Linked DNA regions of Homo sapiens. The protein of the gene in region 1 interacts with the protein of each later gene in a biochemical or structural test. Each region holds a gene or a part of one and is shown on either strand. Other genes may lie near its edges.

Evidence for each region.
Region 2: the proteins of ITSN1 (region 1) and SNAP25 form a complex in vitro, tested with the Homo sapiens proteins (one study listed by BioGRID).
Region 3: the proteins of ITSN1 (region 1) and FCHO2 form a complex in vitro, tested with the Homo sapiens proteins (one study listed by BioGRID).
Region 4: the proteins of ITSN1 (region 1) and VLDLR form a complex in vitro, tested with the Homo sapiens proteins (one study listed by BioGRID).

Annotation. Positions count from the first base shown.
Region 1 is NC_000021.9:33,645,047-33,652,976, forward strand, and holds part of ITSN1 (intersectin-1), read left to right. Parts: intron 1-7,930. UniProt on the Homo sapiens protein: Adapter protein that provides a link between the endocytic membrane traffic and the actin assembly machinery. Acts as a guanine nucleotide exchange factor (GEF) for CDC42, and thereby stimulates actin nucleation mediated by WASL and the ARP2/3 complex.
Region 2 is NC_000020.11:10,270,351-10,278,280, forward strand, and holds part of SNAP25 (synaptosomal-associated protein 25), read left to right. Parts: intron 1-5,078; 5' UTR 5,079-5,141; coding exon 5,142-5,213; intron 5,214-7,334; coding exon 7,335-7,376; intron 7,377-7,930.
Region 3 is NC_000005.10:72,951,594-72,959,650, forward strand, and holds the start of FCHO2 (F-BAR domain only protein 2), read left to right. Parts: upstream 1-4,447; 5' UTR 4,448-4,503; coding exon 4,504-4,536; intron 4,537-8,057. UniProt on the Homo sapiens protein: Functions in an early step of clathrin-mediated endocytosis. Has both a membrane binding/bending activity and the ability to recruit proteins essential to the formation of functional clathrin-coated pits.
Region 4 is NC_000009.12:2,652,227-2,660,156, forward strand, and holds the end of VLDLR (very low-density lipoprotein receptor isoform a precursor), read left to right. Parts: exon of another isoform or gene 1-553; coding exon 554-723; exon of another isoform or gene 724-784; intron 785-1,606; coding exon 1,607-1,642; 3' UTR 1,643-7,830; downstream 7,831-7,930. UniProt on the Homo sapiens protein: Multifunctional cell surface receptor that binds VLDL and transports it into cells by endocytosis and therefore plays an important role in energy metabolism.

The DNA.
Region 1 (7,930 bases):
CCTACCTTAAACGATTCTCCCACCTAGGCAGCCTCCCAAAGAGCTAGGATTAGAGGAATGAGCCACCATGCTTCGTCCAAATTCCTCTACTCTAAATTATCTTTTTAATTTGCTAACATTTGTGAGTTGTAGAGAATTGATGACACGAGAGTTGGGATTATATTATGCACCTCAAATTCTTCTGCCATAGAGCTGTTCCCTTCTGAATGATCACTTCCTCCTGAATGGCTCCACTTAACTGGTTGGGTTTCTTAAAGTGTGGGCCTCAGATCACTTACATCAGCATTAATGGAGGCACTTGTTAAAAATATAGGTTTTGGGCATGGTGGATCAAACTTGTAATCCCAACACTTTGGGAGGCTGAAGTAGGAATAGCTTGGGCCCAGGAATTTGAGACCAGCTTGGGCAACACAGGGAAACCTGGTCTCTAAAAAAAAATTTTTTTTAATATTCTGGGCTTAGTGACTCGTGCCTATATTCCCAGCTTTTCTAGAGGCTGAGGTGGGAGGATCTGGTTCGCTTGAGCCCAGGAGATGGAGGCTGCAGTGAGCCATGATTGCCCTACTGCATTCTAGCCTGGGCGACAGAGAGAGCGAGCCTGTGTCCAAAAAGTAAGTAAGTAAATAAATACATAAAAATAAATACGGGTTTCTGTCACCTCGCTTCAGAATCAGACAGCTAGAGGTGGGGCCCTGGAATTGGTGTTGTTAATGCATTCTCCAGGAATTTCTCCTGCATAGGGAAGTTGGAAACCACTGGCTTCCTTCTCTCTGAGCATCTCCTGAGACTAGCTCCTGAAGTGGATAGAAAGTTTTTCAAGTAGCAGATTAAGTTTTATCCCTTAGGCTGCTAATAAAAAACAATTGACTGTGATTGCGTAATTTTACCTGTCGTACACCTTTCAGAAGGCAGAGGCTTTGGTTCACCCCTCTACCTCCAGGGCCTAAAACAGTGCCTGGAGGAACTCAATTAAACATTTGTTGAGTGAATACGTGAATTACATTGCAGCGAGGCCAATCTTTTAAAAGTTACTTGTCAAATTAATCTATCAGTTAGTGGCATATTAAAGCCCAGCATATTACAAAAAAATTTTTTTTAGTAGTCACTGATTTTATAAATTAGGAGCCACAAGCACTATACCCCAGTGACTTCTGTAAGTTTGGTTAGTTTAGAAAGGAGAGAGCCTTTCCCAGGCGTAGTGTGCTCAAGGTGATTAGCCAGAAAGAAGATTCAGAACAAAGCATTTGCTTAGAGAGTCAAAATGTAAATTTAAGTCACAGTGTAGTGGTAAATCATATATCAAACTTATATTTGGTATATTGTCTTATATCAAAATATCATTTTATAAACCATAAGTCCAACATACTGCTATAAAAATTGGTTTCTAGCAAATAGAGAAAATTGTTATGTTTTCCAATTTCACTTTTCATACTAATAAAATTTGACCTTTACACCTTCTTTTCAAGAGTTCACCACAGGGCACCATAGATATTATGTAGTTAAGAGCTCAAACTTTGGAGAATATTGTGTTTGACCACACATAGTCAGGGAGTTTGATCTAACCTCTCAATGCCTCATTTCTCAGCTGAACATGGAAATAGTAATAATAAAGTTCACATACTTCTAAGTGCTTACCTAAGTTTTTGAGACACATCCACTTAATAAATGGTAGTTACAGTGATGATAAAGAATTGGGGTGTATAAAAATACCTAAAACTCAAAAGCTAACCCATTTAATTATTGTACTACTGGACTTTTATGATAGTAAGTAGAAATCTGTTGCTTAAAAAAGAAGTTTCTTTGGTGGTGTGCGTCTATAGTCCCAGCTACTTCGGAGGCTGAGGTGGGAGAATCACTTGAACCCAGGAGATCAAGGCTGCAGTGAGCTATGATTGTGCCACTGCACTCTAGCCTGGGTGACAGAGCAAGGCCCTGTCTCAAAAAAAAAAGAAAAAAAAAAGTTTATTGCTAACTCCTTGGTACTATGTATAATTTTTTTAATTGAATGACTAGACTAAACATTGAAAGTATTTAATAAGCTATCAAATATGTATTAATATAAGTTTTGAAAATAAATACTAAATCTCCTGATCTCTTTTAGGTTAAAATATAGTTTATGATGAGCAACTAATATTCTTTGTATTTAAAAAGATAATTGTTTTATGGTAGAAAAATTGAAATACAGAAAAGTATAAAGTAGAAAACTATGAAATACCCGTAAGTCTACTACCTGCATACATATTTCTTCAAATCCTTTTGTGTGTGTGCATATGGCTATTCATATACAATTTCTGGTAACAAAAATGGGATCTTGCTATACATATGGTTGTAACCTGCTTTTTTTTTGCTTAACATCTTGTCATGAGTGTCTTTTCCTATATATATATTGCATTATAACAATTTTAGTAACCAAATAATATTCCGTTTTATGGATCTATGGTAGTTTTTTTTTTAATTTTTATTTTTTCAGACGGAGTCTCAGTCTGTTACCCAGGCTGGTGTATAGTGGCTCAATCTTGGCTCACTGCAACCTACGCTTCCCAGGTTCAAATGAATCTCTTGCCTTAGCCTCCTGATTAACTGGGATTACACATGCCTGCCACCATGCCTGGCTAATGTTTGTATTTTTAGTGGAGATGGGGTTTCGTCATGTTGGCCAGGCTGGTCTCATGCTCCTAACCTCAGGTGATCCACCTGCCTCAGCCTCCCAAAGTGCTGGGATCACAGGCGTGAGCCACCACACCCAGTCATGGATCTCTGGTGGTTTAGCCAATTTATTTTTATTAGACATTAGTTTGTTTATTTTTCCTCCACGGTTACTTATAACCCTGCAGTGACTGTCCTTCTACATATGTCTCTGAATGTACTTGTGAGATTATTTTCATTAGGATAAATTTCTACAAATGGAATTTGCAGGATCAAAGCCTATGCTAAATTTTAGGATTTTTTAAATCCGTATTTCCAATTTGTCATTTAGAAAGATTGTATCATTTTATACTCTTACCATGGTATATCAGACTTCCAGTCTCCCAGCCCCTTGTACCTTCCCCCATTTTATGGAATGACTTAACCAGTGACAAACCTAGTGAATTTTTGCTTTTAGGAAGAAGAATGGACTGTTAGTATAATGTGTTTAGTAGTGTGATATGGAAACTCAGAAATCTTGTGCATGGGTAATAGTGATAGCTAATGTCGATTAAGTTCTTTTGCAGCATCTTATATACATTAACTCACTTCACAAAAAACTCTCATCTTACAGATGCCTTGGAAACTAGGGTACCAGCAATTAGAGAGCCAGCAAGTGTCTGAGCAGATTTTTACTGTAGAGTCCAAAACTCTTAGCCTGTTTCCTAGACATGTTTTATAGGCATTTGGGTACTTTTTATGTTCTCGATTGCTGTTGTGGAGTAACTAAGAGGTTCTCTGACATGTACTAATATATAAACTGGGTGGGGCACAAATTTGAATCCCTTTCACTGAAGAGTTGGTCACATAAGTTAGCTCAGAAATTAGCTTTGGGACCGGTGCTGTGGGTCACTCCTGTAATCCCAATACTTGAGAGGCCAAGGTGGGAGCATTACTTGAGCCCAGGAGTTCCAGACTGGCCAGGGCAACATAGCAAGACCCTACAAAAAATTTTTTAAAAAGTAGCCCAGTGAGGTGATGCCCACCTGTAGTCCTAGCTACTAGGGAGGCTGAGGTGGGAGGACTGTTTGTACCCAGAAGTTGGAGGCTGCAGATGCCACAGCACTCCAGACTGGGCAACATAGTGAGATCTTGTCAAAAAAGAAAGGGGAGGGCAGGGCAAGAGAGAGAGAAAAGAAAGGAGAGAAAGAGAAAGAGAAGGAAGGAGAAAGAAAGAGGAGAGAGAGAAAAATTAGCCTCATCAACTGTCCAGCATTCATCCTTAAAGTAGTCTTGTTATCCTTTACTCTGTAGTGGTTTTCCTAAAGTACCCCTGCATGAAAAACAGGATTAGAGTGCTAGAGAAGACTAGTGAAATTTGAAAAGGCAGTTCACTTGTGATGTGGACTTGTCTTAGAAACGCAAGACTGTACAGAAGTGTGATGAGGGAGACAGCTGGGTGTGTGTGTCCAGGTAGTTCCATGTTGGCGAGTTTGGAGATAGAAAGTGGCCTAAGGAAGTTTACTTCCTGAATGTGAATGTTGGCCACTTTGGAGATAGAAAGTGGCCTAAGGAAGTTTGCTTCCTGAATGTGAAGGCCTCAGTGTAGAGAGATATCATCCACTGGGAGATCACTGAAAAGTAAACCAAAACATTTTTATTAATACATGGGATGGTAGAATGTCACTCCAGTTTTGTTCCTAAAGTTCGTAGCTCTCTAAGAAAGTGAATTTTAAGCAAGTTAATCTATTTTAATGCATCACTGCTCTTTCGGTGTTTTTCTAGTAGAATTAATGATAGGTAGCTTGCTTTATTAGCTTACTGCCCAGAGAGAACATTGGTGAAATTGTTTTGGCTTCAGCTCTCTGGACTGAGTTTGGCTGCCTAGCTCAGTTTTCAGTTGGTCACCAAAACCTGTCATTGTTTTTGTGTGGTATGGGGTCTGCTGGAGTCATGTGGTAGTGCGTTTGGCCCTTCATTGAGTGGTGGAGCCAGGAGTTGAGCTGAGGGCTGTGGCAGAATTTTGAATTCAAGTGAATTCGAATGTGAAAATAACAATGTCTGGCCGGGCGTGGTGGCTCACACCTGTAATCCCAGCACTTTGAGAGGCCGAGGTGTGCGGATCATGAGGTCAGGAGTTTGAGACCAGCCTGGCCAACATGGTGAAACCCCATCTCTACTAAAAAATACAAAAATTAGGCGGGCGTGGTGGCGCACAAGTGTAATCCCAGCTACTTGGGAGGCTGAAGCAGGAGAATTGCTTCAATTCCCTGCTTGAACCCAGGAGGTGGAGATTTCAGTGAGCTGACATCGCACCATTACACTCCAGCCTTGGCGACAGAGCGAGACTCTGTCTCAGAAAAAAAAAAAAAAAAGAAAGAAAGAAAATAACAAGGTCATAGCAACACAGCAAGTGGTCAGAATTTTACCCTTGGTGGTTAAAATTAAACATCCTCTTTTTAATACAGGAGGACAATGCTCTTGCTCCTCTGTTGCACTGGTGAGCATTTGATGTGTTCCTCCTTGCATTATGTCTGCAAATCGTTCTGGTGTCTGGTGGCATGCATTTGCAAGACATGGATACAGTTCATGGACGTGGACGAGGTCAGCTGGCTTTTAGTGTCAGGCTTTAACCAACCTAGTTAAGAAGGACGCTGACTCTTACCATAAAAGCACTGCAACAAGATTGGAATTGGAGCTCCAACGAATTGGAGCCATTCGTTTTGTGTGTGTGTGTCTGTTTGCCTGTGTGTGTGTACAGGGTTAATTACTTCTCTGCAAGGCAAATTTCCTGACCGGTTTTATTGTTCTAACACAGACAAAATGTTGTGTAAACACATATATCATTCCAGTGTGTTATCTATAATAGGAGTGTTCATTGTGGATCCAGTGTTTCACAAAAATCAATTCATTTCCGCTCTGAACTTAAGATAGTAGATTTTAAAACCAAGTTATCTTTCAATTTCTGAAGTTATCTGAAACTCAGCTGCCCCAGTCTTGCAGAATTGGAGAATTGCATTTTGGCCACTGATGAATGAAAGCTATATAGCTAGTAATGAGAGAAACCTTGAAAAATTGACAAGAAAATGAGTGCCATTCTTGGTATATAGCAGATTTCAATGAATAGTAGTTCCCTTTGCCTTTATTTTTCCTCTTTCCTGCACTTAATATAAAGAGCTAATATTAAAGTCATTAAATGAGAATAGATCTGTATTATAGGTAGCACTGCTTATTTTTAGACCCCTTCAGATACAGTTATTACAATTGTTGTTTTAATATTCTTTAAATGATTACAGGAGGAAGAAACTTGGTAGCGGGGTTACCAGGATGTTAGCTCCATGAGGGCAGGGAGTGTATCGCTGTTGTCCAGGGGGCTAGCCCCAGGCCCTAGAGCAGCGCCTGCTGCCTGGCAGACACGCAAGGGTTATTTGTTGGTTTATTAAATCAAGGAGTGTTTGAGGTCCTTCAAGCCTGGAGGCCCGAGGGCTCTGAGCTGGTACAGAGCAAGTGCTGGGGGCAAGAGAGACAGGTGGGGAGTGAAGGAGAGAGGCCCACTTGGGACTTGACTCTGAATGTCTGGGAAGTAGGAAGTTAATGTAAGTTTTAAGCAGGGGAGTCCCATGATGTGCTTTTGTTTAAAAATCTCCTTCTGAGTATCATGTGGGAGTGGATTGGAGGATGGATAGAGAGGAACATTCCATTGACTCGGCTTCCAGCTGTCTATGGATGTTGACGTTTCTACCTAGCCTTCTGCTTTATCTTTGTGATGAGGATAATGTGGTGTACTTTGTGAGGTCTCAGGAATGGTTTGAGATGAATGGTAATTTGTGTAAACTTTCCGGAGTTTCTCTGAGGAAAAGAGAACCCCATAAAATTATTACTATTGATCAAATGAAATAGCAGTGTAAGACAAAGATCAAGAATTATTTAGCTTTATAAACAAATTAATTGAGGTTATGAATATAGGTTTCTATAGGAGAGATTTTGTTTCCTTTTTTTAGTGAAAGAAATCTTAAATGTATGGGAATGAATCCTTAAAATAGCAGGCTTTTGCATTGTCTATAGAAGCTGTTCTCTTTGAGGAAGATCTGTTTTGTAAAATGCTGCTGTTGTCTGTCCAATCTGGAGTTTTAATTAGTATCAAAGGGAGGGAAATCCTGCAGTAATCGTAACCTTACTTTAATTCTTAGTTCAATTAGTTTTAAACCACAGTCATTATCTGTTATCTTTAGTTGTTTTGATCTTGGTAGATGAAGTGATTAATATTACAGTTGTGATTTGGTAATTTAAAAAATAACATGTTTTTTCCTACTACAAAAGGAATACATGTTTATTGAAGAAAACTTTTGGAAACATATATAAGGAAAGAAGACTAAAAGCCTACCAAGATCTTACCATCCAGTGATAATGACTGTTAATACCCTGTGAAGGTCAACATGCTCAAATTACCCAGCAGGTGCCTGGTGTGAAGCTACTTAGCCCGGGAGAGTTGAAGGCCTGTTAGGGACCACGAGCACTGAAGGTGGCAGGACGGTCCAGGGCCAGTCAACCCAGACCTTTGTGGTTCTGGGAGGATGCGTCCTGGTGTTACTACACCTTATAGTTATTTAGGAGAATGTGGGTTTAATATGAAATCTTCTGATTTTTATGTGGGCCACACTTTTTATTGTTAACACACTGGGGTTCAAAGCATACCTGAGGGCTGGATTCAGTCTTCGTTGCCTTGCCAGTTTGTAGCCTCAGGTACGTACAGTTTTGTAGCCTGTGTTTTTCACTTAATGTGTTGTATTTGCAGCCTTTTTTGCTACATCGTCATATATGTAATCAGTCACTTATTGCTGGACCTATAGATTCTTTGTCTTTTTGCTTTTTAATAAAGATAGGTAAAATTCTTGGACCAAAAGTTGTTTGTAAAGCCTTTGCAGCATACCGCTCTCAGATGCATTCCCCCTATCATGTAAAAGGTACTTGTTTCCTGTTCTCTTACCAGGACTGGGTAAAACCATCTCCAAAAACATCTTAGCCAATTTTATTTGTTTTAACTTGCATTATTTTCTGTATTACCAATGAGTGTGAATGATTATTAAATGCCTATTGGCCTTACACAAATTTATTTGGTAACCAACTTGTCTTGCTGGAACTCTAAGTTCCAGCAATGTTTTGGTCTTGCATTCAATGCTTCTCAGTCTTTGTGATTCCAGATAATATTAGTACTGTGTTAGTAGCAATAATTAGTACTAATTGTAGGCATCGTTCCCCAAAACTGAGGGCATCAGTATCTTTGGCACAACTATAATCCACTTAA
Region 2 (7,930 bases), on another chromosome or scaffold:
CTCAACGTGTGCTCTGTGAACCAGCAGCTTCAGCATCACCTGAAGGCTGGCTGGAAATGCAGAATCAGCTGGCCACGATGGCTCACGCCTGTAATACCAGCACTTTGGGAGGCCAAGGCAGGTGGATCTCTTGAGGTGAGGAGTTCGAGACCAGCCTGGCCAACATGGTGAAACCCTATCTCTACTAAAAATACAAAAAATTAGCTGGGCGTGGTGGCATGCACCTGTAATCCCAGCTGCTTGGGAGGCTGAGGCAGCAGAATTACTTGAACCAGGAGGCAGAGGTTGCAGTGAGCTGAGATGGCACCACTGCACTCCAGCCAAGGTGACAGAGTGAAACTCTGTCTCAAAAAAAAAAAAGAAAGAAAGAAATGCAGAATCAGTGACCCCATTTCAGACCAACTGAATTAGAATCCCTGAGGGTAGGGCCCAGCAATCCATTTTAACAAGGTTTCTGCATATTCTGACTCTGGGGGAAGTTTCAGAAGCTCTGTCCTGGACCACACCTTGTAAAGTGCTGATTTGGGAACACTGAATGCTACATGGGAGTGTCAGAACAGTTCATCCATGTCAGTTAACATGAATTGAACCCTTACTAGGGGTCAGACCCTTTGCTAATAAGCACTGGTGATTTGAGATAATTAATTAGATACTGTTAGGCTCTTAATAGACTGGGAGTTTGTCTTACAATCAGAGCCTCGGGGAATAGTTTTGAGTGGCTTTTCTTCCTAATTTCTTCTGCTTCCTAGTTTCCTCTTTCTACCTGCTCTGCAACACACAAGATGGCAGTTTATTGTGCTAATATGAGGGATGTATTGCAGGCTGCCTTGATCATAAATGCCACTTCACTACTAACGTCCTTTCAGCTACTGAAATTACTATTAATAAACATCCTTATGCCTCTTCAGCTGCTGTCTTTTAGAATGCTAACATGCATGAGTTTGGGGTTTATAGGAACAATTTATTAAACACTAGCAGTAAACATCCCAACAGAAGATCTGGAGGTACGCTCAGCGCCCACTCTCCAGCCGTTCTTATTAGGAGAGGGGGAATTGCTTTTTCAGCTTTGAAATGCTGTGTGTTTGAGATCCACCAGATTCATCAGCCCTCCTCCCAAATCACAGACGTATCTCCATGTTTTAGAGCAGGACAAAGGTGTGGGAGTTCCTGGGGGAACCGTGAAAGTGATGAAACCAAGGGTATCTGCCACATGGCTTCTCCGCCATCGCACCAGCTGCCCATCAGCCAGGCCTGGATAGGCTGCTGTCAGCTTGGAGCCAGGGCGCCCTACAGCTGTTCTTCACATGCTGAGAATAACAACTTTGAGAGGAGATTGCCAAGGAAACACAGGAAACTTGAGTATGTGTGAGAGAGAGGGAGAGCGAGAGAGAGAGAGAGAAGAGAGAGAGCATGCACAGAAACATTCATCAGCAAATAGACCTGAAGGAGTGGGACAGAGCAATAGCACTACAAGTCTGAAAGCACATGGACCCCTGCCTTCTAATAAACTGGCCTGTGAAAAGGAAAGGTCAATGGCTTGCTTAGGCCGAAGATACACATTTCCCCCCCAGGAACCCAGCAGCAAAATATAAAGATGGAGCGTGGGGCCAGAAGGCACTCTTGTTTGTCTCCTCGTGGTACTCCTGTGAGAGGTGCTGCTTGGAGACTGGAGGCTCAGGCACTCTGCTGGTTTCCCTGGTTTCAAGCTTCCATGGGTGCTCAGCACCACAGCAACATGTCTTGTGCCTAGCCGTTAGTAGAGGAAAGCTGATTAACAAATACCGGGTTTGTTCCACTCTTAGCCAAGGGTGTAGGGCTGTCCTGAATTAGTGAGGCTTTCTGAATATTAAGCTCCACATCCTTTTTTACAAAAAATGTTGGCCAGAACTTTTCTGTAATTTATTCCCCTCAACAACCCCATGAGATTGGCATTGTTTGTCCTGTTGAGAAAACTAAAGCTCAGAGATGGTGATGAACTTACCCAGACTCACCCAGCTTCTGAGCGCCAGAGCCAGCGGTCCAGCTGGGTCTTTCTGACATCAATGCCTTTATCCACCCACTCCACTGAACTATGGTCCATAGTCTACTCAACTTCCCCACGGGTCCACTGCTTTATTCTGGAGGGTAGATCCCCGGTCACTTGGGAATACTAAAATTTCATTTTTGTGCATCTTAAGATTCTGGAGTGACTTGGTGTAAATTCCTTCCAGTGTCTGTTTTCTAGATCCTAATTTGTAAAATGGAGACATGGAAATAAAGTCTCATGTATTTAAATAAAACACAGTGTTCACATCTCTACATCATCTCACGAGCACATGTTCTAGTGGCCAGAACACGCATTCGAAAATTAGCAGGCTCATCGTAAGATGCTCTGTCAGTTATAAAATGACTGCCCATAAAGCTAACCTCACATAAACTTACTCCATTATTTGTTTAATGCCAGTGGTAGAATAAGGCAACCCTGAAGTTTTGTTATTTCTTTTTTTACTCAGATTCCATATTTGTTGCTTTGCCCGGCAATCACTGGGTAGAGAACGGTGAAACCTGTTATCTCCAAAGAAGTTTCACTTTAGGATTCCTTCTAAGAACCCTAAAGAGTATGATTTCTCCTTTTTCACAAGAGCAATAAATTTGGAAAGTGATATTAATATGTACTAAAATTCCATCCTTGTTGAGAAAGCAATAGAATCGTGGACCTGGAGGGTGAGATGGCAGAGCCTCCTCCCCCAGGATCAGATCTAGGACCTGCCTCTGGGAACTTTTGTTCCCTTGCCTCCCAATGAGTATGTTCCTGATTTTTTTTTTCATACAGAATTTTCATTTTTATTTTTCCGAAAAGTGATTCTCATTCTCATGCAAATAATAATAATAATAAACATGGTAGTGCCCCAAGGCCCCAAATCTAATTTCCTCTCCCAGCTTCGGTTTTCAATAGAAAGACAAACAAAAATATGTTTTTTGGTTAGGAAATCATGCTCATATGCAATGTTTCTGTTTCATTTTAAGTTTCTTCAGACATTTACTAGTTAGTGTAACACAGGCTGCTATAACAAAACAACCCTCACATTTTCCATAGCATAATAGAAATATATTGTTTGCTCACGTAAGAGTTCAGGTGTTACTGGCCAGGAGTCATTTTTCTCCATGCAGGGATATGGAGGGCCCAAGTTCCTTCTGTCTCATGGTCTCATGGCTTAACCATCCTTTAAGACTGTATTTCTGGCAGAAGGAGAAACAGAGGGAGGAGAATACCTGCTTCTGAACTGCCTTAGACTGACAGGGACACACTTTGTTCTACTACCACTCATGGACTGTCTCTAGCCACAGAGCACCACTTCCTTGCAATGGGAATTAGAAATGTAATTCCTGGCTGCACAGCCATTTCCCAGAGATCATGCTCTACCATGCAACAGTGAGGTTAAAGTGCACAGTTGACCATCTCCGCTACAAGACAAGAGCCCATGCCTTCTTCAAATGTGCTACTCACAGAGAATTTTTCATTCTATCAGATACCTACCCCATCGGGCCCTTTGCCCCCTTCCCTTCGATGGCCTGGGGACATGGCTTCCTCAGAAAGGCCTGTTGCAAACCCATGGGCACCCATGATACCAGACATGTCCCCTAGTGTAATTATCATCATCCTGAATCATCTAATTCCCTCTTTTGCTTGCATCTCCCCAATTAGACTGAATTCTGTAAAGGCAGGGAATTTGCCTATCTTGTCCATCACTGTATCCCTAGTGCCTAACACTGCCTGGCATATTACAGGTGCTCAATAAATATTTGAGAAGGAAGGAGGAAGGAGGGCTCTCTCCGGAATAGACCCAGTCCTTGTACCTGTCATTTGTACCATGTGGGATTTCAAGAGAGTAGCCAAGAAATGGACTGGTCACCTTTCAGGACCAAGGACCCACCCTCTTTGGAGTGATAGCAGCTCACCCTCACACAAGCCCTTTTGGCAACCTCTGATGATGACTGAAATAGATGAAAGATTTTCTGCCTTTGGCTTCCACATGCTTCTAAACACAATGGAACACTATTCAACAACAAAAATTGAATGAACTATTAATACATGCTGCAACATAGATAAATCTCAAAATAATTATGCTAAGTGAAAGAAGGCAGACAAAAAGTAGTACACACTATGTGATTTTTATTTATATAAAATTATAGGAAATGCAAACTAATGTATAGTGACAGAAAGTAGATCAGGCTGGGTGCGGTGGCTCACGCCTGTAATCCCAGCACTTTGGGAGGCCAAGGCAGGCGGATCACAAGGTCAGGAGATCGAGACCATCCTGGCCAACACAGTGAAACCCCGTCTCTACTAAAAATACAAAAAATTAGCCAGGTGTGGTGGTAGGCACCTGTAGTCCCAGCTACTCGGGAGGCTGAGGCAGGAGAATGGCGTGAACCCGGGAGGCAGAGCTTGCAGTGAGCTGAGATCACGCCACTGCACTCCAGCCTGGGCGACAGAGCGAGACTCTGTCTCAAAAAAATAAAAAAAAGAAAGTAGATCAGCAGTTTTCTGGGCATAGACATGTGGGATAGGGCAGGGGCCAGTGGGTGGGTAGGAAATTTGGAGGAGTAATGGCTATGTTCATTGTTTTGATTGCAGTCATGGTTTCCTGGGTGTATACATATGTCAAAACTTCTCAAGTTGTACACTTCAAATATGTGGGGTGGACTGTATATCTGTTATACCTTAATAGAGCTATTTAAATAAATAAATAAATAAATAAATAAATAAATAAATAAATAAATGTGATGATAAAAGTACACTAACCCCAAACCACATCCCTCCAACCTCATCATTCCCAACCCTTGGGTAGTTTGTCTCTTTAAAAATATTTCATCGGTAGATAGGTGTCTATCTCCATGGCAGAATTGGCAAGTATGTATTTGTGGCATCCTTCGGAGAAACAGCACAATTCTGTTGACCCCTGTCTGAGTATGGCTTTCAGATCAGAAAACTGAGTCATGTGGACTGAGTATGGGCCATTTAGATTTTCTGGTCTTTGCACACACCTACATGAACATATATAAGCTCTCATATTTTCATATCTACTTCTTCCCAGGTCCAGAGCCAAACCCGTCACTGACCCCCCAGCCCAGGCGCCCAGCCACTCCCCACCGCTACCATGGCCGAAGACGCAGACATGCGCAATGAGCTGGAGGAGATGCAGCGAAGGGCTGACCAGTTGGCTGATGAGGTAAGGAGTGGAGACCTAGGAAGGGAGGCAAAAGATGAAGGCCTGAGTGGTTTGTCTTATTCAGGTTCAGGTAGGGAAAGCCTTTCTTTCAATGTCTCAATTTCTTTTAGAAAAAGTAATATGACTTTGATTTTCTGTACACCTAAGGCTTCTGTGGACCAGAATAAGTTGATTATAGAAGCTGCATACAAATTACTGTCTTGGCCCTAACTCTCAATTTCCAGAAACCTTGAGAAGTCAAGGTCCTCTAAGAAAAGAAAGCAATGTCTTTGGGTGCCTTAATTCAGTGCTATGCTGGAGAAGGCTCAGTTCCGAGAACAGATTGTTAACATTTTCAGGAACTTTGCAAGCTGGTTGCTAAATGCAGCCATTATTAAAACTGAATTACATAAACTGACAATTAGATAGATTCTATTAAAATCAAAAGTAATAAACACTCAAACTTCATCACTTCCTAATTATTTTGCTACATTTTACTATTATCCATGATCTTGAGATTCATCCATTTTATCTGTAGGGTGGAAATAAGGTATAATAATGTGTTACCATGTGTCTTTCCAACTTCATGATCAGTAATATGAAGTTGTAGCTTAAAATCAGGCAGAGCTGGGTACAGCGGCTCTCACCTGTGATCTCGGCTACTTGGGAGGCTGAGGCAGGAGGATCGCATAGGCCAAGAGTTCATGACCAGCCTGAGCAACATAGAGAGACTCCCATCTCTAAAAATATTTAAAAATTTAAAAATCAGACAGAGTAAGAGTATTTATCACCCAAGAATCTGCAAATACTGCAGATCAGGACTTGACTTATTGTTTTGCTGATTGTCTAGACTTTAAAAAGTAGAGAAAATATTAATAATGCAGATTAAAGTTAAAAGTATGTATGTCTGCAGCCATTATACTATGAATAACACAAAAAGAGGAAATCTTCCAGTATTTGAAAATTATGATTCTCTAAGGCAAAGAAATCCTTTTTGTCATTCACAAATGAGTACAATTCCAACACATGCCTTCATTGTTTAATTTTCTTCTTACTCATTAATATACATGAAAATATCCAACCAACATTCATGTCAGAACTACTCTGGTTCATCACATGGTTAGCTGTAGACACAAAAGTTCAGCAAAAATCAGTAAAAGTTTTCTGTGAGAATCAATTGGCTATGCGGAATTTACAATAAAGAGAGTATTGTATATTTTATTATTATTTATAAATTTTGTGCTATTCATCCTTTATATCAGTAAAATAATAAACTTGAATACATGTATGTATTTGTGTATTTTTCCCAGAGAGCCGGTAGTTAAACCTTTACCAGCAGACTGCTGCTTGCAGCCATTCTATTTCAAAAAGCAGCTGGCTGACAGCTCTTCCAGGGAAGTTAACATCCTTCAGGTTCCTGCAGAATCTTGTTCAAAATAAGTTTGTCAGTTAAAAGCAAAGCTTTGAGAAATCACACTGGTTGTTGGATTCTAGTCGTTTCAAAAGAACTGAGAAAAAAGTGACAACGCAGTGCCCGGGGGACCATTGCAGAGCTCAGCCTTTCCGTCTCGTTTTTTCTTATCTAAGGATGAAGATAATTATTATAGCTCTCTCCTATAGGCTGGTCATTTCAAACATGCTTGATTTTTTTCACCCTAAGGCAACAACTTAATTTGTATTGATAAGAACTTCCAATTGTGTTTCTAGGAGCTTTGTAAGAAACTTGATGTTATATTCATCTCGATTCATGAAAAATTATGTTTGTGTTTAAAATTTAATGTTCCTGGCCCAGGGAGGCCAAATTAGTCCTCTGAGTAATTGAGATAATTTTTCATGCATTCTGAGCATGCAAAATTATCTTCTCCAGATTACTTTGTCTTTGATATCAAGATCAGCTTCATATGGTTTTTATTTTCTGAAGATAAGCTGTAATGTAATTGCTTTAGGGAATCTGATCATGTAAAAAGCCTGATAGGAAAGAGTTTGAAAATGTAATGACATTTTTTGTTTCACTTGCCAACTGAAAAGAATATGTGACAGAGACCCTTTGTGTTTCTCAAGTAAATAAAGTATTTCTGATTTTCCAAGATCTCTGGATCCTGCACTCATAAAGTTTATGTTTGTTTGTTTTTTAAATCTTAGTCGCTGGAAAGCACCCGTCGTATGCTGCAACTGGTTGAAGAGGTAAGAAGTGACAGTATTTTAAGATAAAGGAACAAATCCCTTATGCTGATACATCCTTTCCTAGTTGCTATGATGTTTCCTTGGGCCATGATCCCCTAGATTCCAGTGTGGATGTAGCCTATCAGAAAGGCACAGAATGAGGGAGATGCTGTATTTAAGTTGCCAGATAGCCATGAAGACACCTTCACCCTCCTTCCCAGCCCAAGCCACCTCTGTAGTCTGGTCTGGGAAGCAGAGAATAATAGAATTTCCAAGTCTGTGCTCTCAAGAAATCACAGACGATTGTATCACTTTAAGCAAATTAGAGCAATTCTTAATATACAAAGGAATTATCTACATAAAACTTTATTTGTAATTATTTTTGTGCCTATAAATTACATCTAATCTTGAGATTCTGTTCTAACTTTAGCCACATATATGACTTTTAAAAATATGTACGCATATAGGTGTATCATTTTTAGAAATTGTTCTATTTAAAGTCAAGCACTAAAATTTATGAAAAAATAGGAAAGCCCTTTAACAAAGGGAAATATCAAGTCCAATAATATAAATAC
Region 3 (8,057 bases), on another chromosome or scaffold:
GGTGTTTGTGCTTCTTCCACAAATGACAAAATGAAGGAGCACCCGGGAAAGTACATCTCATTCTGGAGGAAGAGATGGCACCACATGAGGAGCAGGCAGGGAGTCAATCCCAGGTGCACTTAGGAGAGAAGAAAGGCACATCCACCTGGTAAGCCGCTCTGAAATGAGTAGCGTGCAGGGTGATGTTGAGCTCTATTCTGCAGTTCGATCAACATGCTTCTACCTCTCGGCCCTCACATAGCAGCCTGCCTGGCTGCCATCTGCCAAGCTTTTGCTTTCCTTTCTGTTTTGCATAAGGCTTTTGCTTTTAATATGCTGCTACTGAGTACAGAAAAACAAGAGCGTACCAGACTTCAGGGATCTGCCTGTTTCTTTTCTGCCTTTTAATAGAGCTTAGCTCTTTTGCCACTTGTTATTGTCAAGTACAACATGAGTTCAGAGAAAGAATACTGCACCTGACCGGGGATGGATGCCACGCCTTGAAGAAATTGGCAGGAAACAGAAGAGGTTTATAGGATCTTCTCTTCTGCCACTCCCATCTTGGAAACAAGTGGAAGTACATTTGCAAAATTATATTGAAAAAAATGAGAAAATGCATTTTTCTTTATAGTCAACCCTTCTGACATGGACCTAGTTTCAAATGAAGTTATGAGGAAATGGCCCTTATGACTAAATGTTGATTCATGTGCTGTGAGCTGTGAACCCAGGATGAGAAATGGGAGGAAATCAAACTAAGGAATGGAAAGGGGGAAGTGCTCTGGGTGCCTTGCCTAAGAGACTGAACCCTCAAATCTTGGAAATAAACCATATTTTGTAAACCAGATAATTTAGACTTAGGTTATTTTGTGTGTCTCTTATTTGGTATCATTTATCAAGTTATGTTTTAAAAGTCTATAGCTTTGGGCTATAACATATATGCTTAGGCCAGAGTTTAATGGGGATCAACAGCATCCCTGGAAGCCTATATCTCTTCAGCAGGTATCGAGAGAGATCCTAAGAGAAAGATGATTCTGGTAGCGGTGACACCCAAAAATCAAAGTCCAAATTGAGTAGGGGCTCCTTTCCAACAGGCAATCTCTTGCTACAGTAAATCTTGGATGTTATTTAAATTTTATTTTATTTTTATTTCACAAAGTACACTAAGGCCAGGTGTGGTGGCTCATGCCTGTAATCCCAGCACTTTGGGAGACCGAGGTGGGTGGATCACCTGAGGTCAGGAGTTCAAGACCAGCCTAGCCAACATGGTGAAATCCCGTCTCTACTGAAAATACAAAACTTAGCCAGGTGTGGTGGCGCATGCCTGTAGTTCCAGTTACTCTGGAGGCTGACGCAGGAGAATCACTTGAACCTGGGAGGCGGAGGTTGCAGTGAGTCAAGATTGCACCACTGCACTCCAGCCTGGGTGACAGAGCAAGACTCTGTCTCAAAAAAAAAAAAAAAAAAAAGTACTCTATCCTTTAAGAAGTACACTCAAGCCCACAAGAATTCTTTTGAATATATTTAAAGTAACATGAGAAAATTAAATAAAAAACTTAAATAATGATATTTTCTACAAACTCTAGGATCAAGCACCAATTAAAGAGGATGAGTAGGCTGGGCGCGGTGGCTTATGCCTGTAACCCCAGCACTTTGGGAGGCCCACACAGGCGGATCACTTGAGGTCAGGAGTTCGAGACCAGCCTGGCCAACGTGGTGAAACCCCGTGTCTACTAAAAATACACAAATTAGTCAGGCGTGGTGGTGGGCATGTGTAGTCCCAGCTGCTTGAGAGGCTGAGGCATGAGAATCGCTTGAACCTGGGAGGTGGAGGTTGCAGTGAGCTGAGATCGCACCACTGCACTCCAGTCTGGGCAACCAAGCGAGACTCTGTCTCAAAAAAAAAAAAAAAAAAGAGAATGTGTAAAAGATAATGGAATTATTACATATTCAAGGTCTCATCTACCTTGACATTTCTATGATAGATGTCATCATTCATTCATTCACTGAACATTTACTGACTCTTAAGTGACAGGTATTATAGGCAGTGACTTGTACACTGTTGTTATCTATGTTGGTTTTTAATAATTTCAAAATGAAATACATTTTGATAAGCAAAGTCTAAGAGAGTGTGGCACAAACACTTTAACGCATATAAGCTCGGTGGCTCATGCCTGTAACCCCACCCAGCACTACCCACTCAGGAGCTTATCTATGCTCTGCCAGAATGTATGTTCATCCCTGGAAACCTCACTTGAGAGTGCAGAAGGAGGCTGATACCATCCACGCTCTTCCTATACTACACAGTCTTGTCTGAAATTTAGTCACCTTAATCACTGTTTACTATAAAGTTCCACAACTTAAACATCAGGCAATTACAGGATATGGTGTTTCGGCCCTAATGAACCTTGCAAATACCTGAAATACTCAGAATACTTATTTTCATTCCAGATCTACTCCTAAATTTAAGGGGAGCAGAAGAATGCGAATGAAGGCCAGTAACTATTGTGAATACTATACTAAATTGTCTGTAGGTAATAGCCACACATTGGAACACTAACAAAAGGAAAATGTATGCTTGATACTACTGAGAAACAATACTTTGTCATGCAGGAATCTATAGCATTCAAGCTGAGATGAAGGATTTGACAAGTTAATTTGTCTTCTCTCTTACCTAAGCATTTCTGCTGCTCAAATTCTGACTCCAAAGCAGTCTCTGAAATGGGCAGCCATGCTATGTACAAATTTTCACTGCTTTTGGAGTTCACCGTTTGTTTTGAGGACAGAAGACAAAAGATAGGAAGAAGAGTTTTCCTGGGGCCTGAATAGTGTTCTTCACTGGGAGAGGGAATTTATGGTTATGAGCCAGTGTTCAGTATCAGATCACAAGCGGCAGGGGCACCTATTTTTTTTTAAATTAATGTGTGTGTGTGATATGTAAGTTCCTTTAAAGCATGGAGTCCAGGATAGAAGTCTCTCTTGCCCAGGTCTAAGGGTGCGGGGGGAAGGGGGGGGGCGCGGCGGTGGGAGGGAGTACTTTAGTGATACTAGGAATTTAATGCCAAATGTATTTGCTGTGTGACCTAGATGGCTGAATTTTTTAAAAAGTTCTTCAGCATCGAGAAAAATCCAGTTAGACCGATAGCTTAGAGAGCTGTAGCTTATTTCTAAATTTGACTTTCCCTAAAACTAAGTGTAAATGTCAGTGATATGAGGACTTTTTAAAGAAACAAAATAAAGAAACAAGATACACAAAAATAGAGCAACTATGGCCAATCTTGTTTCATCCCTTTTCATCTATGACCTTACTCATACCCCTATCCATAATAAATGACTTTCAGCAAATCCTAGATGTTCTGCATCCTATATCTTTCTAACAGATATTCTTAAAAAGTATGACCACAATACCATTATCCAATTATTCCTTGTTCAACAAGCACTTACAATTTCATCCATGTGAAAGGCACCTCATGATTTTTACTTGAGGATGAAGATAATTTCTCATGAATTCTCATTGTTTTAAGTCACCTGAAGAGGTGTGATATGCTACAATAAATCTATTTGTAGGGCTTGGCTTCAAGAACTGAAGATTCTGGACCTAGCTGATCTGGTGACAGTGAACTTGAGACCTCTAATAGCGTTTAACTATTTTTTTTTAACTTTTGGAAAGCAAGGTGTAGGAAGGGGATTTAGTTTTTCCATTAGGTCGTGGCATGTTAAGACTTGTTTCTTTTTCCAAAATGTTCAAGTTGCTGAAGAGAACTATGGACTATGGGTCAGGAAGTCCGTCGGTTTCGGGTCACATTCCGCTCCCGCAGGCCTGCGGGCCGCCCCAGCTGGTTTGTTCCCGGCGTGTTAGAGGTCAGAGGCCGAGGCCGCACTCAGTGCCTGGGTCTCGCGCAGCTCCAGGGCTCTCAGGCGACACTGGGCGTTTCCTTTCCGGCTTCGGAAAGTTTTGTTTTGGTTCAAGGAAAGGCGCCCTGTTGACCAAAGGCTTCTCAGTCTCCTCCGGGTGGCCAGCGGCCAAGTTTCCTCCAGCCCAGCGAGTCCAGACTATAGTCCGTTCGAGATCCTCGAAGGCCGGGGAAGCGAGTCTTGTGAGGAGAGAAAGCGAGTGGGCAGCCAGCCTGCCGACTCCACTGCCGCTGGCTGGCCCTTCTCTTCCCTCTGTCCCTGGGCCAGTGCCCGTCGCACCACAAACAGTGCGAGCAGTCTCCCCGGTGACTCCTCAAGGACCCAGTTCTCCACCATTCCTAAGAGAACACTCAACCCAGCCGCGCCCGGGATGCAGAGAGATCTACCAACACCCGAGAATGGGGACAGGGCGCATGCGCACACCGTGGCCGTGGCGTCTAAGTGCTCGCCCAGCTGCGGCAGCCGCTAGGTGGCGCATGCGCCCTGGAAGGTGCGGGCCGGTCTCTGGGAAGAAGGCGGCGGCGGCGAAAGGCGGGGGTGCTGTGGGGGCCGGGCCGTGTTTACACAGCGGCGGGCGGGCGCGGACGCGGAACCCGGCGCGGCGGCGGCACGATGGTCATGGCGTATTTCGTCGAGAATTTTTGGGTAAGCTTAGGATGTTGGAAGTCGTGTGTTTCGAAGTCCAAGGCTTTTGGCGCCTGAGCTTGGCCTGCGTGCGCTTCGGGCGGCGGCGGCGGCCCCTCCGGCAGGGCGAGCGTCCTCCTGCCGCGTCCCGCCTGGGTGAGGTCCGGCGGGCGACCGGTCGCCAGCCTATAGGGACTCCCGGGCTCGCAGCCCTATGGGGACGGGGGCTGTCACCGCGGCCCGGGGGCCCGCAGCGGGGCCGCCGGCCACCGGGGCTGGGACAAAGCGCCGGATGGGGCGGGAGACGGGACCCAGCCCCACCGGAGGCTCCCGGTGCCGCGCTCCGCGCGGGGCGTGCGCGGCAGCTCGGACGCGAAGGACGGGCCCGCGGCACAGCCGCCTCCCGCTGCGCGCTGGCTGGGAGCGCCGGGCGGTGGGGTTTTGCCTCCTGCCCTCACCGCGGGCCCCCCATCTGAGCGATCCCTTTTACCTCTGACGGTTTCCACACCAAATCCAGTGCGGGGTTGGGCTGGACTAGCACTTCCTCTCAGCCTCGCAGCTCGGCTCGTGGGTTTGCGCCCAGGACTTTGCCTCTGGGCCTGTTCACAAAGCGTTTAAAAGTTGGATTTAATGTAACTGGACTCCTTGGGCTTAAATGCATGGAGACCTCCCCCTACTCTGTGCTCCTTCCCCTTCCTCATTCTTTCCACCCCTTGTCTTAGCTCAGTATTAGATTCTTCTTTGAGAATTTCTCCGGCTCCCGGTGGAGTATTTTTCTGCAGTTATTGTTTTTTTTTTTGTAATGGGAAGTACAGTTCAGCCATGTACAGGAAAGGAACGTGTTTACTCAGGTATCTTTCGTGAATCCCATTTTATGCCCTGACAGTTGCAAGTACTGCAGGTCCATTTTCGTTGAGATTTAGACATATTTAAAGGGGTAATCTTTTAGCTAGTAAGGAATGTATGTTAAATTCTTAATTCTAAGTGCCTCAAGCATGGTCTTGGTTAGTAATCAGATCAGTTCATAGTTATTTATTTGTCTTGAATGTACCTTGTTTTCCACAAAGAACGTATATACTAGACCTTAGGTGTTTTGTTTTTTAAACAGCTTTATTGAGTTCACATTTCCGTACCAATACACTCATTTAAAGTGTAGTACAATTCAGAGGTTTTTTCATATGTTCATAGAGTTGTGTAAACATCACCATATCAGTTTTACAACAATTTCGTTATCCCAGAAAGAATCCCTAGACCCATTAGCAGTCACTCCCCATTTTCCCCCTGCCCCAGGCCTAGGCAACTAATGTATTTTCTGCCTCTCTGCATTTGTCTAGTCTGGACATATCCTATAAATGGGGCCATGGTGACCAGTTTCTTTCACTTAGCATAATGTTCTCAAAGTTTATCCATGATGTAGCATGTATCACTACTAATTCCTTTTTATGGTCAAATAATATTCCATTCCACATTTTATTAATATTTATCCAATCAGTGATGGACATCTGGTTGTTCCCACTTTTGGGTTATGAATAATGCTGCATGAACATTTTTGTACAAGTTTTTGTGTGAACATATGTTTTCATTTCTTTTGGGAATGGGATTCCTGGGTCAAATCGTAGCTCTATGTTTAACATTTTGAGGAACTGCCATACTATTCTGAAGTGGTTGTAGCATTTTACAATCCCACCAGCAATATCTGAGGGTTCCTCTCCACATGCTCACGAACACTTATTTGTCCTTTTTATTATAATATAGTGAGTGAACGTGAAGTAGTATTAATATTTTATTGTGGTTCGATTTGCGTTTCTTTGATGCTTAACATCACAGTTAATGTGCTTATTGCCTATTTTTATATTTTCTTTGGAGAAATGTCTATTTAGATTAATTGCCCATTTAAAAATTGGGTTGTCTTTTTTTATAATTGAGTTGTAAGAGTTTTTTTTTTTTTAATATTCTGGATACACACCTTATCTGATACATAATGTGCAAACATTTTCTCCCATTCTGTGGCCTGCCTTTTCATTTTCTTGATGCTGCTCTTTGAAGTAACTCATAAGTTTTTATTTCTCGTGAAGTCTTGGTGAAGTCCATCTTATCTATTTTTTTCTATTACTTGTGCTTTTATTGCATCTAACCCAAAAATTATTTGCCTAACCCAAAAATTACGCCTTTTTTCTTGTTTTCTTGTAAGGGTTTTATAGTTTTACTTCTTCTGTTTAGTTCTATGATCCATTTGAAGTTAATTTTTGTGTATGGTGCAAGGGAAAGGTATAACTTCATTCTTTTGCAATTGTGTATCCAGTTGTCCCAGTACCATTTGTTGAAAAGGTTCATCTTTCCCCGTTGAATTGTGGTACCATTGTCAAATATCAATCGACCAGAAATGTATGGATTCATTTCTGTATTTTCAATTCTATTCCATTGTCTTCCCTTACGACAGCCAGTAACACACAGTTTGGATTGCTGTTGTTTGGATTACAAATTTGTTTTGTATAGCAAATTTGGAATCAGGAAGTATGAGTCCTCTAGCTTTTTCCTTCTTTTTCAGGATTATTTTGACTGCCCTGGGTTCCTTGCATTTCCAGATGAATTTTAGGATTAGCCTGTCAATTTTAGGCATTAGGTTTTACAATGGCAATTTATAAAATGTTTTAAAGAGCATTTAAAAATTGATGCTCTTGTAAATGTTATGCATATTTTTGATGCATGAATGTTTTTTAAGTTGCTAACTTAATTCCAAATTGCATCTTCACATTAAAAGTTATGTTTCGTTTTCTGTTAATTGAGCTTTGAGCATAGCTTTGTTTGATGTTTTTGGCTAATATGAATAATACTTCTCTGAATATCTTTCTACACATTTTTATGTGCTTCTTGGGTATTCTTGTTACAAGAGGGATGGGAATAAACTTCAATATTTGAATTCTGGAGAGACCTCCAAATCTAATTTATGTTTTAGTTTTTGCCTTCACTTTCACTATTGAAAACAAATAGTTAATAGACTGCATTTTATTTTATTTCCTGGCTTGGAATTGGGGCTGTGAGGAGGCTCAGTGAGCTAGGAAGGTCTAGGAATTAACTAAATAATTAACTTCCGAGAATTTATAGTTGTCATTTTAGGCTGGGCATGGTGGTTCACTCCTGTAATCCCAGCACTTTGGGAGGCTGAGGCAGGGGAATGGATTGAGCCCAAGAATTGGAGACCAGCCTGGGCAACACAGTAGACCTTGTCTCTACAAAAAATTTTAAAAAATTAGCCAAGTGTGGTGGCATATGCCTGTAGTCCCAGCTACTTGGAAGGCTAAGGTAGGAGGATTGCTTGAGCCCAGGAGTTCAAGGTTGCAGTAGGTTATGATTGGTCACTGTACTCCAGCCTGGGCAACAGAGTGAGACCCTGTCTCAAAAACAGAAAACTAAAAATTCACATATTTCAGGATCATTTATAAAATAATCCCTTAAAATAGATATTAATTTAACTCTTCCCTCTAGCATTTAAAGTGGAACTATTAAAAGGAAATAAAATTGTCAAAATTCAAAACATCGTG
Region 4 (7,930 bases), on another chromosome or scaffold:
ATAATAAGTCTCTTTAACTAGTGTACTGTTCTGTTCCCCCTTTGAAATGTGTGTAATGCTTCATACAGAGGAGATGCACAAATGCTTAAATGCTAAGAGTTACAGGACTTGTTGAGGATAAATTAAAAGCAGTTAAGAATTTTCAAACCTATGGAAAAGGACCTCTAAACGAGACACGCAAATTCTAAGGACTTTGCTATAAAAACCTTTGTCCTAAATGAAGAGACCCAAGCTTAGCTAACACGCCAGGACCACCTGAATAGCTCTCCAGAACCTTCTGCAATTTTAATTTGGTGAGCCTAAGGTGGGACCGAGGACCCTGCCCTTGCCTGGATGGATGTGGCTAGTCCAGCTCCAGTGCACAGAGCTACCTCTGGGCTGAACTTGTTTCAAGCTCCTGGCCCATGTGTATTCCAACTTCTAGTTATCCTAGCTCCATAAAACATGGCATTTTTACTAATGTCAATTATTATGGATTCCTGAACGTTATTACCTTTCTTGTATGTTCCAATACTAGACTTAGCTCACTTAGCTACCCTCTGATTTTTTTCAGTGCTCTTAGTGATGGCAGCAGTAGGTGGCTACTTGATGTGGCGGAATTGGCAACACAAGAACATGAAAAGCATGAACTTTGACAATCCTGTGTACTTGAAAACCACTGAAGAGGACCTCTCCATAGACATTGGTAGACACAGTGCTTCTGTTGGACACACGTACCCAGCAGTAAGTCAGCTTTGTGTCTTTATACACCATGGCTTGAAGTGAGACTTTTCAGAAAGGAGACCTGGGTGAGAGAGAGAGAGCCATTAGGATGATGGAGTTACCAAACACTTCATCTGCTACCTGGCTATTAGACAGACAGTATAGCCTGTTAGAACATAAGTCACTCAGTTGATCAGCATCTAACCCTCACCAACTGACAAGTGGGTCAACTTAAAGTCACCACTATATTAAGATATTTTTGGTTATAGAAATGACATGTAAATACTAGCATGAACCAAGTAGCTCATTACTGAACTATTAAATCCATTGCCTACTGGATATTTGAAAGTAAATTAGCATATCATATATAGGGGAGTTGGCTTAAAGTCAGTGTATTGAGTAAGATTCACTTAGCCAAAATTATTATATGCTTTGCTTTAAAAAGGTATCCCACCGCCCTTAGTATAGCTAGCTTTTCTTCCAGCAATAGTCACTCACTTGTTCTTCAGATGAAACCCAAGTGGAGTATTTGGCCTTCACGTAGGAAACAGGCTGAACAAAACAAGTATTGATCACTCCCCTCTCAAACTCCGGTGAAACATGGAACAGTGGTCAATTCTTGACACACACATGGCTTTTCACATTTTTCCCCAAGACTTATGATCATTAAGTAGAAAAGACAGAATTAGTCACACTATCTTATCTCACTACCAAGCAGGTATAGTTGAATTCAAGTTAAATGCATGAATGATACAACTCAGTATTCTTTTGTATCTGACTGACTTTTCTTCTAAGCACTCTGAGTGTTTGAATGACCAACTCAAAAGCAAGGTCCATTTTAAAGACTAGAGTTGCCATCAGTGAGTGATCACCAAGCTCATTCTATACTTCTTCTTTTCCACAGATATCAGTTGTAAGCACAGATGATGATCTAGCTTGACTTCTGTGACAAATGTTGACCTTTGAGGTCTAAACAAATAATACCCCCGTCGGAATGGTAACCGAGCCAGCAGCTGAAGTCTCTTTTTCTTCCTCTCGGCTGGAAGAACATCAAGATACCTTTGCGTGGATCAAGCTTGTGTACTTGACCGTTTTTATATTACTTTTGTAAATATTCTTGTCCACATTCTACTTCAGCTTTGGATGTGGTTACCGAGTATCTGTAACCCTTGAATTTCTAGACAGTATTGCCACCTCTGGCCAAATATGCACTTTCCCTAGAAAGCCATATTCCAGCAGTGAAACTTGTGCTATAGTGTATACCACCTGTACATACATTGTATAGGCCATCTGTAAATATCCCAGAGAACAATCACTATTCTTAAGCACTTTGAAAATATTTCTATGTAAATTATTGTAAACTTTTTCAATGGTTGGGACAATGGCAATAGGACAAAACGGGTTACTAAGATGAAATTGCCAAAAAAATTTATAAACTAATTTTGTACGTATGAATGATATCTTTGACCTCAATGGAGGTTTGCAAAGACTGAGTGTTCAAACTACTGTACATTTTTTTTCAAGTGCTAAAAAATTAAACCAAGCAGCTTAACCATGGTTTGTGCCTGTTCCTCTAGGATGAACTCCTATCCTGAGTAGTACCAAGTGTTCTAACTAAATGTGTGAGCTGTAGTTCTTGATGTTGTATAACTAAGCCTGTAATTGGGCTGGTTTCTCTTACACCCTAGCACAGTTAAAAAATGAAGTACTGTTTAACATTTGCTCCCGAAATATTTCTTACTGTGTAAAAGAAGCTAGCTTAGTCTGTACCTAGAATTCCTCTTGGTTAGAGGAGTGAGTTTCTTTTTTTTCCATTAACTTGTTTCCTGATCGAGAAACACGTGCTAAGATTTCTATGAATTCTGCTTCTTTATAGTTAAGTCTCTGTTTTCCATGTTCTGTCATTTATATAGGTCAAGGACAAGTGCCTTCTAAGGCATGGATAAGGGCTTTCTTCTTATGAAAGTCTAGACTGTCTTACTGTGAAGATGGCCAGGGAGGATAGCAAGCAATGGCATTCTTGAACAGTCTAAGGCAGGTTTCTCAGTGTGGTCCTGAGAACAGAAGCATCTGCATCACCTGGGAATGTATTAGAAATGCAAGTTCCCAGCCCCATCCCAGACCTACTGAATCAGAAACTCTGGGGGCGAGGGCTGAAACCTGCTTTCATAAGCCCTTCAGGCGATACTGATGTAAACTAAAGCTTAAAAACCACCGTTTTACTGTGACTTCATGAAGAATATAATTGCAATATCACCTAAATTTTTATCCTGGCTGGGATGGGGCAGATTCTTACTATGGACAATTTCTGGAACTTACAGTATGAAGAGCAGATGAGGAGTTTGAGACAAAGAAAAAATTGTACAGGGAGTTTAGTGAATTTTCCATCAGGTTGGCCATTACTTTCTTTCTCTAAAGTCTCAGGATGTCTGGAAGCAAGGAAAGACAAAAGACTTGAAGCACCGGGTGCATGCTGTGTGTCACAAGTGAGGTGGAGAGTTGGCTGTGGAAGGTACAGCAATTCCTCTGGAATTAAATGACCGACCAACACAGTACCAAGAGGATGAAGAGAAGATGTTTTGCGTTGCTACGTGAATCAGTGGATGACTCATATTTCACTTGCATATGAAATATAAGGCAGTTAACATCTTGTTTGTGGCTTAAGCAAGGACATTAATCCTACTAGATGAAGGGGAAGTTGGTTCTGTTGTCTTAAGGGATGCCCCCTTGTGATTTTGGTCAACTGAATGAAAAAGAAAAGATAGCCTTGGACTTTTTTTTCATGGGAGGTTTGGAGGTCAAGCATGTAGAAGGAAAAGGCTGTAGTCATGAATATAGAACTGTCTGCTCTCCACCTTTTCCTCACTCTACATTTAGTCATCACACTGAACAGGATGTGGCCTGCTGACAGTGAGTAGCTGAAGTGCCTGTTTGGTAAGTAGGTTAGCATTCATCATGAACTCTGAAAGCCATTTCAGAGTTTGGCTGCTGCTCTGACCCTGCTGTGGTACAAAAAACATGGATTTTTTTTTTTTTAACTGGAGTAATACCAAATTCCCTTTAGAAGCTTGAAGTTTGATACTATTGCTTTCCCCATTATAAGGATTATACAGTATTAATTAATTATAAGGCCCAAAGTTTGTTTTGGCAAATAAAGTATTATTCTCTATCATCATCTTTTGAATTCCTGTCCCTAGTATGTTCTTTCATGTTCTGGGTAAAATTTCCAACCCTCAAAGAGTCTAAAACGTCTCATTTTTTTTTACCACGTCCTCCCCAGTAAGAAGCCAAGGTACAACTCATTGTACCTACGAGGTACAAACTCATTTGTAGAAACAAAGTAACTAGATATTCCTATTGAAATAAGAATAGATATATTGGTGGGCCAGGCATGGTGGCTCACGCCTATAATCCCAGCACTTTGGAAGGCCAAGGCAGGAGGATCACTTGAGGCCAGGAGTTCGAGACCAGCCTGAGCAACATGGTGAGACCCTGTCTCTACAAAAAAAAAATTTATAAAAATAAAAGAAAAAAATAGTTATATGACTAAACTACTAGTCAATACAGCTTGCAATAATAGTGCATGAATGATAACAGGCCTCGGCTTTATCACCCAAAAAATAACTTGAATTCTATGTGAAATGTGTTAGGATAAGTTTGCTCTGTCTCTAGAGTTCAATGTAGAAGATAATTAAGAGGTAAAATATGAAGCTTATCATACACTAAAGGAGAATATTTGGAGTTAGATGAGCCTGTCACACAAAGTGAAAGTGGACCCTCCAGAAATTTTAGGAATTGCCACAAAGATTGATGATAGATGAATAAACAGATTTGTGGCCTCTGGTAAAGAAATCCAGCCAAGTTCCTCTGTCCAAATTTTTAAGTGCCCTTTGCAAGCTAATCTATTTGGCAAAAAAATAGTCCCAGTTGTTCAACTAGCTCCCTTAAAACATTCTAGTAGGTGTTTTAAAGCCTAGGTATCGCTGCCTCTTTAGTTCTTGATGAATACAAGGCAAAAAAAAAAAAAAAAAAAAAAAAAAAATTGAGGCTTTCACTTTGGCATTTGCTTCTGTTCCTTGTATCTGTGGAAGTCAAGTAGCCCTTCTCAAAAATGAGAAGCCAAGCTTTAAATAGCAAACTACAGGGTATTAAAAGACTAACTCTTCAGTTAAGAACACTGTAGAAATGGTAGACCAACTTAAAGTCTACCTTTTAACAATCTTTACCCCAAACCTAAAGATTCTAGGGGTCACTTATCTCTATTACGTAATCTAACTGGAATAATTTCCTAGAATTCTTACTAGTGAAATCTTACCCAAGTAAAACAATTTATTATTTTGAATCCAAATGAAAGCTATACTGTTTGCTTTCAATGGTGGCAAAAACTTGCAAAAAGCAGATATACTTTTGCTAATTTAAGTTGAAGTACTATGAATACAACCTGCTAATCTTGATCCCCAAATCTGAGCCCTTCAGTTTCATAATTGTTTTATCCTGAACGTAGTTGTGACATAGACATTTCTCAAAAGGGTCTGATACATCAAACTCCTAACAAGTAGGAGCAGCAACTAGCTAAAGAGTAGAAAGAAGCTTCCCTTATTGTGGGTGATGAGGCGGTGCCTAAAAACCACATATATATAATCCCCTGGGTATTACATATTCTGCAAGCCCTGTTAGTGGGGAGATGGTAGTGGCAATAGCAGCGATAGTTGCGTCAGTGCTAACTGCTGCTGCTGCCCGTTCTGTTGGCGGCTGCTGGCCAAGTGTGCACACTTAGCCCTGGTTGAGGTGCATTGTCTGCTGTCGTCTGTTAAGCATCTAACCGGAGTGGGAGGGCACATCAAGCGATTTCACTCTCTTAAAGAAAAGGTTTTTAGGTATTTTTGGTATTATATAGTCTCTAAGGCCAGAAGGGGCTTATAATGACTTCTCTTCTAGAATTGTAATACTAAAAAACTACTCGAGTAAATATCCTAACAAGTATGATTTTTCTTGGGAAAACTAAAAATTGTACATCCATGCTTCAGCCATATCATGGGCCTAAACTATGAGAGTTCAGAAATATATAAAAGTACAAAAATCTTCAAAGGTACTTATTTCCAAATATGGAGGGAATGAATCTGAAGAGGGAACAATGGCGTTTTTCGAACTTATTTCTCTCTAATCCAGCCTGGAGGATTTTTAGCCGAAACAGTTGCATGTGAAGGATTATCAGCCATCTTTGCATATCCCTTTCACATCTACCTTCACACAGGAAAGCTGAATGCATTTTACCAGTGAGGCTCTAGATATGAAACTTAGGGATCCATAGATAAATAAGCTACTAACAAACTGATAACAGTGGTGTTCCATCTCTCTATCATGTCTCCTGAGTCCGTTTCACGTTTTTGAGCCTGGCTAATGAGAAAAAGAACAAAGTAGGACCATGACCCAGTGTTCTCCTGTAAATCTCACTGTAAAAATCTCAATGCAAAAACACTGAGACAGGAGTGAGACCAGCTGCGGGTGGGGAGTTTGTGCTCCGCAGGTTACCTCATGGCATATCAAAAATGGCTTTTTTCTTCACTGCGCTCAAGGAAAAAGTCAGATGGGTGACAAGGTGGTTCTGTTTAGAAGCAGCAGGCAATGTAGTTAACAGCATAGACTTCCGTGTCTTGTGTGTGGTACCTTGGGCAAGTTACTAACTCCCTCTGTAAAGTAGAGACGATGGGGACTGTCTCACTGTGACAAGGTAAGATTTAAGTGAGATGCACACAAAAAGCTCAGCACAGTGTCTGGCATCTAATATGTGCAGGGCAGATGTCACTACTGAATATCACATCAATGCTAGGGCTGTATTTACTGTCACACACAGGCACCGGTAAGTGACTTTACCGGTGAAAGTCACAGGTACCTTTATCTATGATGAATGTAATGTGTTAGATGGTGACCGAAGTGTTCTCCACTACACCTGTCTGAAGAGATCTAAGTCTGATATTTAAGGAGTGATAGCATCTTGCATACTTAAGAAGGCTTAAAAGACTGCATGGTTTAAACCCTAGAAACATAAATGGAATGTTTCTGCCTCAGTTCTTTTGACTACCTCCTAGGACATGGAAACAAATATTTGGGAGCCTGCATAGTCTTTAGATGGCTGCCAAAGCACTTAAAATCTCCTTTAAATTCTTACCATATGCTTACTTTTGTACTAAGTAAGTGCTCCCAAGTCTTTTACTTGCTCTTCACAGCAACCCTAATAGGTATCTCCATTTTACATAGGTAAAAACTGAGGCTACAAACAATCTATGGTTCCAAATCCTATGTGCTTACTGCCGTCTTCTCTTAGAAGGGGATGCAGTACTGTACAAAGATTGAGCTGGATGTCGCATTGCATGTTTGCTGAGTCCTCCTCATTGCTGATGTTAGGATCCTTCAACAGTTTCTCAGATGCCAGCTATGGCTGGCATCCAGTATGGTGGTGTAATGGAAGTGTACTACTAGCACTACTACATCAGGTCAGCACAGATTAACTCAGTTACGTGTTATACCTTCAAGACGCTAGACATTCCAGAATTATTTTCCTTGGCCATCCAAGTGAAGTAGAAGTAGATTGTTGGATTGCAAAGAAAATGATAAAGATTCCCTAAAGGAATTTATAAGCAGGCAACTTCATTCCTATGTATAAGATATTGGGAGAAAACAAACTGTACCACAACAAATCTTAAGTTTCAAGGCTCTCCTATAGGGAGAAACATGGCCAAAAAGACAGGAAGAACTGTGGCTTGTAACTCAATGATGCTATAACTCCAGCACTGGATCTTAAGTATTCTGGAATATACCAGATTGGTAGAACTACCAGACTTGGGTATTTCTCAGTTAACACACATGCAAGGAGGAAGAGAGTTTTTTTGAACAAAATGACTGGCTTTGACAAAACTATCTTGCTCTTTTTAAATGTCACTTGATACTAGAATGCGATTTAAAAGCATGTAATGCCTCAGGAGTCCGGCATATACAACCAAATTATCATGCTCAGGATCTTCAGAATTCTAAAGGCACATGTTAGAATGCAGAGTCCTGATGACCTGTCAATAAACTTTTTTTTACTAATGAACTGTACATTTAAATAAAAGTTTATTTTTGGGATAATTGTGAGCCTTTCCTTTCTCTAGAGACCTTTTATAAAAGCTTTTACTCAAATCTTTTTCCTTTTCTCAACTGAATCACTGAAGATGACTCAGTCACCCCT